Homo sapiens: one gene and its partner. The protein of the gene in region 1 interacts with the protein of each later gene in a pairwise test. Each region holds a gene or a part of one and is shown on either strand. Other genes may lie near its edges.

Region 1 (4,492 bases):
ATTGGAATGTCTACTTTCTTACACAACACATGTGTGTGTATACACTTATCCATATGTGTGTGTGTGTATATATATATTACGTAATATATATATAATGGAAGTTATTCATGTAGACCTCAATTTTTCTGAAGATACATGTGCACGTGTGTGTGGGTACACACACACACACACACACACACACACACACACACACACACATACACAGCTATAAAATACTAGGATTTGGTCCTTAAGTAACATCTGAATCACGAAAGATTCATTAACTGGTAAAACCACATTTGGTACACATAAATATTTGGTAGTCAAACTATCTGATTAAGCAGAATAGTTCATTCATTTCCTGCCAATGTGAGAAAGCTATTAATTGTGTATGACTGTAAAACTTACCATAGTACTTCTGGAAATTTCACAGATGATAAAAAAGCAAAAAAAAACAAAAACAAAAACAAAACAAAACAAAACACAAAAAACTCACCATAGGTAACTAGTAGAGCAGCTAGATTAATCTTTGAATAATTCATGGCAAGAGAGGGTTAACAATATTAATGTCCTGGAATGAATTTGTGTACTTCAAACAACAAAGCAGGGCTAGGAATAGTTAGGAGATTTAAGAAACACATAGACTAGCTGCACATGCAACAATTTAAAAATTAGGAGGTTCTGGGATGGGCGTGGTGTCTCACACCTGTAATCTCAGCACTCTGGGAGGCCGAGGCAGGCAGATCGCTTGAGTTCAGGAGTTCAAGACCAGCCTGGGCAACATGGTGAAACCCCGTCTCTACTAAAAATACAAAAAATTAGCCGGGCGTGGTGGTATGCACCTGTAGTTCCAGCTAGTCTGGAGGCTGAGGTGGGAGAATCGCCTTGAACCCAGGAGGTGGATGTTGCAGTGAGCCGAGATCACGCCATTGCACTCCAGCCTGGGTGACAGAGGAGACTGTCTCAAAACAAAACAAAACAAAACAAAACAAAACAAAACAAACAAACAAACAAAGGAGGTTCTTTTTGGGCCAAGGCTTTCAACCAGCTATAAATGAGAGGGAAAGCTACAAAAAGCAAAATCTCTGGAATTAGTGTTTGCGACTATAACAGAAGGGGCACCTTTGAGTGTACACCATGTAGAAGAATCTGTGGGGCTGTGATATGGTGTTTTCAGTTACAATTACTCATTACTGACTTTATGCATGGGACTAAATGAAAAAATAGAGCTAAAATTTGCGATTGGTGGCTATCCAGAATCAATAAAATAATTAGATAGTTATCATTGTTTGGATCCTAAGTTTTACCACCAGAGATTCTAAGCTTTAGATTTTACATAGGTCCATATTAGGATTTAGAATACTCAAAATTGTTTTGGTTGTTTTATCTTTTAGCTGTAACACAAATTTTACTATGGAAGTTTTTAATATTTTATTTTTAACCAGTCCTTGACTATTTTAGAGAACTATGCGTGTTCATTCTTAATCATTAAGAATATTAGGTCACTAACCTGCTTTAAACATTATTAATGAATTCTTCCCCAAATAGAAGCCAGTTGTTTCCTTTCTTAGCCATTAACACAATGTTGTCAAGAAATTTATTATCTTGGAAATGTCTTCCAATAGGTAGTTTTCTTCATTGGAAAAAGTTTACATTACTATGTTTTCTATCTACTAACAGAGTGATCAAAGCGTGGAGAAACTGATTCCCTGGGAAGAGATGACTTGTTGATGTGCAGATTGGTAATCTATCTGTAAATGAGCAGGGGTTTTTTCCACACAGGCTGAAGAGATACACAACAGACCATCCTTACAACATATATCTTTAATTAAATTTATATTGGTGGGTTTAAAAAACATTAAGTCAGGAGATGATAGCTAGGGAAATAAGGTATCCTGTGAGTATTTATAACAAAATATTTAAAATTTAAAAAGAATAAGAAACATCAATTGGCTTTTTGTAACTTAAAAGAGACTAACCAAGTGTTGTTTCCCAGTTCTGTACAAGCAGAGGCCACAGGAGGATTCTTACATAAGAAGCACAGGGAAAAGAATTGTTAATTCTGCGTGTGTGTTTTTGTTTCTCAGAATTGTTTGGAAGAACTTTGTCCAGTCAGAAATGAGTAAAAACAAGATGTAAGAAACATTAAAACAGGGGGCATATGGTCTTAAGAGATAATCTTGGAGAATATAGCAAAAGACAAATTGCTCCATTAGATATTATAATTTGGTATGTAACATGAACATTTAAAATTCTGATTAAAGTGACTAAAAGGGTTTGTTTTTTAAAAAAAATCAAAACAGAACTTACGGGATAAAACTCAAAATAAATTTACTCTCAGTAGTAACTTGATGTAGGAATATAAGTCCTCTCACTTTGATAAACATGAATATAAAATATTGCTGTCTGTATTCTAGGGTTTCCTACATTTTCTGTAAAGAGTGATTCATGCTATGTCATATGTAAATGACTCAACATTTTGAGCTAAAAGGCTGTTCACAATATACACATTCTTTACTTACAAAGCAAAATAAGCTTAACACCTTTATATTAAAAACCCGGGATACAGCAGGATTAGTAGCACCGTGAAAAATAATTCTTCCCACAAACTGCAGTCTTTTATTTTACTCAATGTGACTCTTCTCTTAATTGAATTTTTAATGTACCATTTTAGTAACTGGGCAAAATATATAATTTTCATCTTATAATTCTTGGAGAAAGTCATTCTGGACCCAAAAAGTAAATTCACTTCCTTATTTCTTTAGTAGAAAAATAATAGAGACTTTGCTCTGGCGCATTGCTGAGGTACATCTGAATCTTCATGGTTACTAGTCAGCATGTTATCTTGATCATATATAGTAGCACCATTGACGGCAGCAGTAGTAAAGTTGGGGACAATGAGACACTGCATCCTAGGAATTTTATATATATATATATCACATTTTAAAACACAAAAGGAATTCTTCAAAATGTTATGTCCTCTTCATGCACACTTGACATCGGCTAATTCGTGTCCTCAAGTCTCCTGCTTTCAGCGTTTCTGACTGAGGTTTACTGGGAAATAAGAAATAAGACAATCAGATCCACATTTTCTGGTATTTCAATTCTGTTACTGGTTCAAATTTATAACTAAACATTTTTTGTGTGTTAAGTAGCTCTCTTGGTGACTTAATGGTTTACTTTTCAGCAATATGATCTAATGCAGTGACTAGTATGGTTTAAGAGCCATTAGTGGTCATAGATATTTTGTAACGATTCTCCCCACCACTATTATCTTTGTATATTTGTGTTTCCCTCTCATTTTCTATCTTTTTCTCTTTCTCTCATACATTTTTCTAATATTCACAGGATGAGGGAAATCTGGGCAACTGATGATGTTATGATAGATAACAAGGACCATAAGAAAAATACCAAGTAGTGATAACCCAAAAGCAACACATAAAAATAAATTTAAACTGAAAAAAATCAACAGAATGAAGTATCCTGAGGTACATACATTACGTATGTCTTGCTCATTCAAACCCTTAAATGAGAATCTTTAAAATATCCTGGGAAAGGAGACCACTGGACTGAGAGGGAAAAGACAGACTGTAACTTCAATTCCTGGGGTGGTCTCAATCTAGTTGAACAGCTGCTGACTTATTAGGAAGGTCACATAACCTTTCTTTATCTCTGTTTCATTATTGAAGGATTACTACTAAGCTATCACAAACCAAACTCACCTAATATTAATAATCAAGTCTGTTTTTCTGACCTGAGTCATGTATATGAGAAGAACAAGCAAGAATAAAGTACACAATCCAATAAATTCCTAACATTTGTTGAGGATAAACCATCCATAAATTGTCTCTTTCTTCCCTAGCATCTCTGAAGGAAGCTTTGGACCTGAATTAAAGCTATAAGCACTTTACCTGAACATGTCTGACACATCTACAGTTGCCAGCCAAAAGCTGTAGGAGTTGGCATAGTAGTTACAGGTACCCCTCCCATGACATTCGATGAAGGGAGCTGAACGAAACTCTTCCAAGCAGGAACCAGGGGAGGCTAGGGCTTGACCTGAGCCTTCTGCCCCTGCACTTGTATGCTATAAAAGACAAGGAAAAATGTGCCGCAATACCCATGTGCCATAATAGCTTAGTGAATATCCAAAGATGTGTGCTGAGCTTGGCCAAATTCAAATCTAGTGAAGGAACAGGCCCAGAGGTAAGACAATAGTATCCACACCAAGGGTAGTCAAAAAAAAGTAATAGGCAGATTATGAAAATATGTTACAAAAAATGTGTGAGGGGGAACACAGTGCTTGGATAGAAGCTGTTTGAAGTTTAAGCTTCTTATTATGCAAATGACAGGGATTCCTCATATTGGGAAGAAATGTAGATGGAATGGACAGTCAGCTATGATGACAAATGCAAGGAAGAGTGTAAAATACCATCATGAAGGAATAACCAATCCACAGAGAATCCCATCCCTGAGGACAATGGGGAATCTGGATCGTCTGACTGTGAACTGCGAT
Region 2 (9,124 bases), on another chromosome or scaffold:
CCTCAACCCATGCTGCCTCCTCTTCACCAATCCCCAGACAGCATCCCTAGCCCAGGCTTGTGCACCTCCTCTTTGCCCACCTAGTATATTTATTGGAATTTAGGGTTTATTTCCTAAATGCATGGAGATCTTAGCCCCTGGAGGCCACCATGCCATCTCAGTTTTCTAACAATCATCCGTCTCCAGGTAAGATTGCCAGGTGAAATATTTGAAACATCTTTTTACTAAAAACGTATTTGTTGTTCATCTGAAATTCAAATGTAACTGGATGTCTTGTATTTTTATTTGCTATGTCTAACAACTCTACCAGTGAGGCTTCCATAAATATGACCTCTGCCTGGCTGGTCCACCAGGCCACCCAGACATTCCTGAGCAGGTTTTAATATGCTTGAGTTCACCATGAGCAGACAAGCCAGGCCCTCACTGATTTGGAGTATCCAGACTTTTGTGCCAAGTGTATAAATGTAATATTGGGAATTAGTAAGTGTTTTAAGAGTGGCATACTTTTTGGACACAGAAAATAATCTTTCGTTTTATCCATCATTAGTTAGTTATTAAAGAGTAATTAATGTTGTTAGAAATGGACTTTTTTATTCTGTAAAATAGACTTAATTATATAAAGCAAGTATAATCAACAGGCCATGTTGCTTTTAGATACAAATCAGCTAAGAACAATGTTCCAGTCAGCTCTCCTGTTTGACGGATCTCTATTAAAAGCAAACCTTCCAGCTTCCTTTCAACAAAAGTGGCCAAAACAAACATGTCTGTACAATAGTCCCCCCTTATCCTCAGGGAATATGTCCTAAGACCCCAGTGGATGTCTGAATCTGTGGGTAGTACTGAACCCTATATATATCTACTATGTTTTTTCTATAAATACATACCTCTTACAAAGTTTAATTTATAAATTAGTTGCAGTAAAATATTAACAACAGTAACTGGTAATAAAATAGGACAATTATGACAATATGCCAGCATCACTACTGTTGCACTTTGGGGCCATTATTAAATGAAATATTAATTGAACACAAGCACTGGAATACTGAGACAGTTGATCTGATTACTGAGCCTGCCTACTCAGTGACTAATGGCTGCCTGTCTACACTACCTACCCATTGGTCACTAATGCCAGGCACCTGTAACCCCAGATACTCGGAAGGCTGAGGCAGGAGAATCGCTTGAACCCGGGAGGCGGAGGTTGCAGTGAGCCAAGATCATGACACTGTACTCCAGCCTGGGCAACAGAAGGAGACCTGTCTCAAGAAAAAAGAAAAGACAACAAAAAGGAATGCAAAAATCCTCCATAATCCAATATATTTTGGCCCAGTCTTTTTGAATGCAACTATATAAATACTTTTAAAGAAACTGGGGCCAAGAGCCACCCTGCAGTCTGCTATGACCATGCCTACATGCCTATGAATAGCCACTGCACTCCAGCCTGGACAATGTAACATCTCTAAAAAAATTTTTTCTAACAAAATACAAAAGAAAGAAATCAACATAAAACGGTACATAACTTGCTTTTTTCACATAAAAATATAACATGAAAATTTAAAATAGTTGCATAGTATTTATTCTATTATGTAAATAAAAAACAATTTACTCAACCAGTTGCATATTGTTGGATACTTAGGTTGTTTCTAATTTTTCTTCTACCAGTCTTATACGTTGTACTTAAATTGTCTGCAAGTCAGATGATTTCTGTAAATAGGCAAAATACATAATTTATAATAAAGTATTTTTATTATTAAACTGAAAAAGTTCTATTTCACTAGTAGTTAAATAAGCACAAAATATGAAACTTTTAAAACAGCATATTGACAAAGATTCTTAAGGTAGCAGTACTTACTTCTGGAAATGCAATGGAAGAAGCCCTCAAACACCTTTGAGGGTGCTGAGGTACTGAATACAACTTCTGTGTATGCTTATTGCTTTTCTGCCTACTCAACATCCATTTTTCCTCTTTCTGTTAACAGCACCCACTATTCCTCTGAGGAATCCCTTCCCCAAATTTGAGTTGATGTGTCTTGAGTGGGGATGAGACCACTCCCTTGCTTGAGTGAAAGCATTCCATCCTATGGCCACAATGATTGGTTGAAGGATGGGTACACTTCTCTTGCCTATTTTCTATTTAATTTTTAAATTTAAATGCTTCTACTCTTAAAAAGCCTCCTAGCTTCCTTTCAAGAAAAGTGGCCAAAACAAACATTAGTGTACAATAGTTCTCCCTTATTAATCCCAAGTTAACCCCAGGACTTTTATGAGAACTCCTGGAAGTAGGTGCTCTCTTTCCATGATTGTTTCTATGGTAGGATATATCCAAATTGATTGTATCCTTGCCACTGTAACATAATAGCATATATCTGAATCTTTTCCAGTACTGAAAAATGGCATCTAATTGCTTCAATTTAATTGCTCTGGATACTAGTGAATGTGACTATTTTCATAAACATGTTGGCTGCTTGCATCTCTTTTGTGATCTTGTGTCTATTCATGTCATTTGCCTCTTTTCCTATAAAATAACACAATAAAACTTATAAATTAATCATAAATTTTCTCTTAATTTCTTAAATGATGTTTTTACTATAACAAAGTTGAAAGTTTTTATGTATCCATATCTACTGAGCTCCCCATTATGATTTCTTCTGTTACTTTTTTGCTTAGAAAAATTTTCCATATCCAAAGATGAGATAAACACTTGCCAATCTTTTTCTCTAGTATTTTGTTGCATTATTATTATTATAATAGTTAACCCTTTAATCTACTTGGAATTAGCTTTGGTATACACTGTGCCACAAAGCTCTAAATTTATTTTTCCCCAAATAGCTAGCTTAATTTCATCTTCCTTCCTTCCTTAATTTTTTTTTTTGACACGGTTTGCTGTCACCCATGCCTGAGTACAGTGGCATGGTCATGGCTCACTGCAGCCTTGCCCTCCTGCGCTCAAGCGATCCTCCCACCTCAGCCTCCCAAATAGCTGGTACCACAGGCATATGCCACCACAGGCATGCGCCACCATGTCTGGCCAATTTTTGTAGTTTTTGTAGAGACAGGGTTTCACCATGTTGTCCAGGGTGGTGTCAAGTTCCTGGGCTCAAGAGATTTGCCCACCTTGGCCTCCCATAGGCGTGAGCCCCATGCCTGGCCATATTTTCTAAGTACTATGTTATCTCTCCCTTTTACATATTGTTTCCCCCTTGGGAAAAGAATACTTCACTTCACCAGTGTCACCACACCAGTGTCATCACACCTGGAGAATGGGCTTAAACCTAATCCTGGGGTTTTCTCATACATAGTGAGGAAGATGAGAAAGAAGGGGAGGCCAGAGCACCTGTTTTCTTTACAATGACAATCACCCCATCAGCAGGAGTGACATCAGGTGTGTAGGTCCCAAGAATCCCCCAAGATTGCAGGTGCAACATGCCCCATGATTTACAATCGCAGCCCATCATCCCCTTCTTTTTTATTTTTTCAGATGGAGTCTCAGTCTGTCATCCAGGCTAGAGTGCAGTGTCACGATCTTGGCTCTCTGCAAACTCCACCTCCCAGGTTCAAGCAATTCTCCTGCCTCAGTCTCCTGTGTAGCTGGTACTACAGGCACACACCACCATACCCAACTAATTTTTGTCTTTTTAGTCCAGATGGGGTTTCACCATGTTGGCCAGGCTGGTCTCGAATTCCTGTCTTCAAGTGATCCACCTGTCTCAGCCTCCCAAATTGCTGGGATTGCAGACAAAAGCCATGATGCCAGGCCCCTTTCTGTTTTCAGTCTTCGCCCATTGCACAAGTTGCCGCCCAAGTCCCTCCCTAAACCCTGAGAGGAGGTAGTTGGATGAGTTGAGTTGGTCTGCCTCTAATTACTGCTTATTTAATGTGATTGTGAATTTTAATATCATTAACATGATGAGGGTTTCTGAGGCAAATAGGAGTGGTGCCTGCACAGTTGGCTTCAGCTGGATCCCTTGCCATTTGTGTTCTTGGCTTATCTCATTCTGTGGTTTCAAGACTGTGAAGGCTCAGCAGTGCCTTCCCTCCTTATCTTGTCTGTTTCTCCACACATCTTCCCTGGGTCTACTAATGTAACGGTTGGGTAGCATGGATCATTGTATATCTGAATATCTTTCTTTTTACCTACATAAGGTGACATGTCAACTTAAAATATTTTTGGTCACAACCCACTTCCTTTAAAGTTTAGCTCACTGAAGTTTTTTTTTCTGGGTTTAGTGTTTTGGAAAAGTGTAAGGGTACATTATCCTCCTAGATTCTTGCAAAAGCTCTGCCCTCGTGGAATTTACAGTCCAAAAGAGAAAAAATAAATTATTTGTGATGAAGAGTGCAATATGCTTTGCATTTGCAAAGTCTTACTTTTCATAGTCTCCATCATCTTCATGAGATTTGGGGAGGAGGAAAGGCTCAGCCCACCCTTGGGTAATAGAAGTCACTCTGTGCCAGGACAGGAGTTAGGGAAAAGTTCCCAGATAGAAGAATTCACTATATCTTGGCTCCTTGTGAAAGCAACCCTGGGCTAAGACTGAGCCTTGATTTCATTCTAGAAATTCCTGTTGGTTTTTACAACTCAACTGACTATCACTTTATGGTCACCCCCAGGGAGCTAGATGCCTCCTTAACAGGCCCCACCTGGTTGGTAAGCAGCGAAATTATTTTCCTTTCTACATGCCATCTAGTGACTGACTTAAAAGTTGTTGCATCTCCATTCCTAAGAGCTCTGCTTTTGAATTGTTTTGGGATAAACCTGTCTCAAGCAGGGAATCTCAGCACTTTATTTCTTTTCAGTCCTTTAATCCTAATGCCAGGGCCTTACTCATAAAGCTTCGTAAATCTGTGGCCACTGAAATATCCTCTCTCCACCTGCCAATAACTTCTTAAACACACATTTTTCATGGAAATTGTTATTAGCCAAGCTCTTCTCTGCCCTCTTTAGGGACACATCGCCGTGCAGATTCAGCCAGGTACTTGTGGGTTCGGTTGATAAGACTGAGAATTCCTCGTTCCTCAGTTTCCTCGTTTGTAAAAATCGAGCTTGTAAAAATGGTATCTATCTCACGGCTTTGCTGTAAGAATCGAATGAAATAATGCACACGCACTTGCACAAAACCCGCTATATTATTATTACATTCTACTTTAAGACTGAAAATCATGCAAAAAATTGTTTGCAAATTCAAGCCAGATATCGTGTCCTGCTTACTAGAGAATCGCTCATATTAAGTCAAGCACCCCTCTTAGGGCTGCAGGCTATAGGAACAGTTTCTGCCATGAGCGTGCATCGATGAGGTTATCCACCCGCCCCCTCCACTTTGTGTGTCTGGGTCTCCAGATTTCATTATAAAGAGGCAGAGCCCATCAGAGAACTTGATCGGCAGCCAGGAACGGTTTTTTCCTGCTCTGGTCCTTTGTCAGGTCTTTGTTCCGCCCCTGGCTACACTCGATAACAGAACCACTTACTGGCGATTCACAGGAGGGGACCGGGCGGCAGGGCGGGGCGGGGCCTGCGGGGCGCGGGGCCGCGGCGCGGAGCCGGCGCAGCGATTGGGTTCACCCGGGGGGCCGCGCTGCGCGGAGTGCCAGGCTGCGGGCGGCTGCAGACCTGGGAGCGGAGACCGGCCCGCCGCCCCCGACGCCGCCGAGCACGTCAGCGGCGCGCAGCCGGGGCTCGGAGACCGACGGGCAGAACGACGGGCGGCGACTGCGGCGACCGCGGGACGGCGAGAGGCACGCGGCGGGAGGGGACCGGAATCCGCAGCTCCGGCCGCGCCATGGACGGCAACGACAACGTGACCCTGCTCTTCGCCCCTCTGCTGCGGGACAACTACACCCTGGCGCCCAATGCCAGCAGCCTGGGCCCCGGCACGGACCTCGCCCTCGCCCCTGCCTCCAGCGCCGGCCCCGGCCCTGGGCTCAGCCTCGGGCCGGGTCCGAGCTTCGGCTTCAGCCCCGGCCCCACTCCGACCCCGGAGCCCACGACCAGCGGCCTCGCGGGCGGCGCGGCGAGCCACGGCCCTTCCCCGTTCCCTCGGCCCTGGGCGCCCCACGCGCTCCCGTTCTGGGACACGCCGCTGAACCACGGGCTGAACGTGTTCGTGGGCGCCGCCCTGTGCATCACCATGCTGGGCCTGGGCTGCACGGTGGACGTGAACCACTTCGGGGCGCACGTCCGTCGGCCCGTGGGCGCGCTGCTGGCAGCGCTCTGCCAGTTCGGCCTCCTGCCGCTGCTGGCCTTCCTGCTGGCCCTCGCCTTCAAGCTGGACGAGGTGGCCGCCGTGGCGGTGCTCCTGTGTGGCTGCTGTCCCGGCGGCAATCTCTCCAATCTTATGTCCCTGCTGGTTGACGGCGACATGAACCTCAGGTACGGATCTGTCTATTCCTTGGGCATCTGTCTCATCCCAGACGCGCGTTTACGGCCGTGGGCTCACGACGAAGGACAGAGGCAGTGGAGGGGTTGGAATTAGGCGTGGAGGAAGGAGGAGAAAAGGAGAGGAAGTTGATGACGCCCCGGCTTTAGAAGTCAAGGCCGACCTGCAGGTTGTGCTGCTAGGGGAGCAAGCTAGACGGCGAGGGAGCTGCTCCAAGGCTGGGATTCCATGCGCAGCGCGGCCCTTCAGCAGGGTCCCTCGCCGTCCTCCCCGAGCGTCGGGGTGGCAGCGCAGGTCGTTGTCCAGTGGAAGACAAAGAGAAGGGGGAGTCTGAACTAGAACTCGCCGGCAACGTAAAAGTAAAATAGGGCTACTGGCCCGTCAGAGAAAGTAATCTCACATAGAGTGCAGGATTGTTGAGTCCGACCAACAAGTAGCAGTCAGCAGCTTTACCATGGCTTACCTTGCAGGGGGCTTGCAAGGAAGAACGTTCCTTCCCCTCAGAATCATCCAGGCTCAATAGACTTTATAATGTCGAGGGCAGCAGTACCGAGACAGGGGGCTTGTTTTTCCTCCCTGCCTTGGGTTCATAATTCCATCGGTGTTAGACGTGCTGCTCTCTTGGCACTCTCCTCGGATGTAGGTTCTGCCCAGACTTCAACCCCGGGACTTGCAGTCTCCCCGTTCCACCTCTACTCAACATACAAGAAAAAGGTTAGCTGGCTGTTTGACTCAAAGCTCGTTCTGATTTCTGCACATTCCCTTTTCTGCAGCATCATCATGACCATCTCCTCCACGCTTCTGGCCCTCGTCTTGATGCCCCTGTGCCTGTGGATCTACAGCTGGGCTTGGATCAACACCCCTATCGTGCAGTTACTACCCCTAGGGACCGTGACCCTGACTCTCTGCAGCACTCTCATACCTATCGGGTTGGGCGTCTTCATTCGCTACAAATACAGCCGGGTGGCTGACTACATTGTGAAGGTAAGGCCCCCTCTTCCCTTTCCATACTAGCTTGGAGAGCCCTTGATCTCTGACCCACAGCAGAAATGTTAGGAAGTTTGGAGAAGGCGGAAAGGAAGAAAAGGACTTGGAAGTAGTTGCATGGATAAAATTTTTTTTAAAAAGTTTATGCTACAAAGATAACTTCCACTTTTGGGATTCCTAGAATGACAGCTTTAATTAAGACACAGCTTAATCAAAACCAGCATAAGAGAACTATCAGTACTCATTGGAAGGAAACAGATCATAGCAGGGTGGGGAAGATGACAGTGTAATTAAATGGCAACATATTTTCCACTAATTGTATATAATTAAACATAAAAGCAGATTAAATAAAATTACTTTAATAGAATTGGTGCAGTATTTTAGAAATGCATGGCTATCTTTTCAAAAATGGAACTCTAATTCTGAGAAACTCTGTAGTAGGTTCCTTTAACATTTTATTAAATTTTTAAAAGTAAGTTGATACTAATAGGACAAAAAGTAATGGAAAAGTTACATTGTAGTAATAGAACACACAAAATATTGGCTTTAAAGCACAAAATAAAATTGGGTCCTGGATAAATAATGGAGGTTATGTTGACCTTACTAAATGTGTTTCTTTTTCTTTCTCCATTGCAATATTTTATATGGCTTATAAAGCTAGTGAAAAGATAGGGGATTTCTATAATTTGTGCAATATTTCTCCTAAGGCTTTGATTTTTTAAAAAATGAATGCTTTCTGTAGCAGTAGAGATTTTAATAGTTTAGTAGATTCTAGTAGTTGACTGGAGGAAAAAAAATCTTTGCAAAATTAAGCTGTCTTTGAAAATTCAAAAACAGTAGCAAAAAAGAATAAACCATGACCAGGATGCTGACTTCAGGTAATTAATCAAATAAAATACGTAACTATTACTGCAAAATGCACAGGCAAATTCCTTTAGACAAATGAAGAGAAAAAGAGCCACCCTAATGTTTCAATTATGTAGATTCAAGAAGACATAATCTTTTGTTTTACTTATTTTCTAAAGTAATTTGATTATATAGAGTCAGCTTTTATTAATATGAAAAGTAGAGAGTTCTTTTCTGTGCATATATCCAGGCTTGAGTAAAAGAAATCCTGCTCCATAATACACATGTATATGTGAATGTAAAAATGTATGTGTACATGTAAATATGCATATATTAATACCTGTAATATATACTCATAGATACTCTTGAGATGCATTAAGAACTTGTTAATCTTAATCATTAAGCTAATGCTATTAATGTGATGGCATTTACTATAAAACCTTAGGAAGTCTAAGAGAAAGTCAATCAAATGACCTATTTACACACCCAAAACAAGAAATATATTTAAAATAAATATATTAATAAATTAATATATTTAATATTTAAATATAATAGACATAAGATTAGCTACCTTTGAATTTAAGGTTAACCTAGCCCTATTCTTTAATTAACACACTATTAAGAAACGGTTTATATAATTGTTACACCTTTGCAAACACTTCAAAATGAGCATTCAATGTCAATGCTTGCCCAAATGATTTAAAATAGTTCTAAGGGACTTTGGAGCCAATATTTCAAAATGAAGAAATCAGACTGTTTGTCAGCGCTTTCAATGTGACATACTTTGAAATGGTATGCTTTTACATGTAATAGCCTGGTTTCTGCCAATTATGCATCTGTAGTATCTGTACCTTATATAATAATTATTGCAGCATCCTCTAGGGTAGAATTTGTGACCAGCTCAGATAAATTTTAAATAA

Evidence for each region. The genes of interacting proteins can lie anywhere in the genome.
Region 2: the proteins of COL4A5 (region 1) and SLC10A4 interact in binary tests that used the Homo sapiens proteins (3 or more experiments, as listed by UniProt).

What each region holds. Positions count from the first base shown.
Region 1 is NC_000023.11:108,694,838-108,699,329, reverse strand, and holds the end of COL4A5 (collagen alpha-5(IV) chain isoform 2 precursor), read right to left. Parts: coding exon 4,409-4,492; intron 4,064-4,408; coding exon 3,891-4,063; intron 3,034-3,890; coding exon 2,952-3,033; 3' UTR 1,785-2,951; downstream 1-1,784. UniProt on the Homo sapiens protein: Type IV collagen is the major structural component of glomerular basement membranes (GBM), forming a 'chicken-wire' meshwork together with laminins, proteoglycans and entactin/nidogen.
Region 2 is NC_000004.12:48,477,788-48,486,911, forward strand, and holds the start of SLC10A4 (sodium/bile acid cotransporter 4), read left to right. Parts: upstream 1-5,555; 5' UTR 5,556-5,774; coding exon 5,775-6,364; intron 6,365-7,144; coding exon 7,145-7,355; intron 7,356-9,124. UniProt on the Homo sapiens protein: Transporter for bile acids.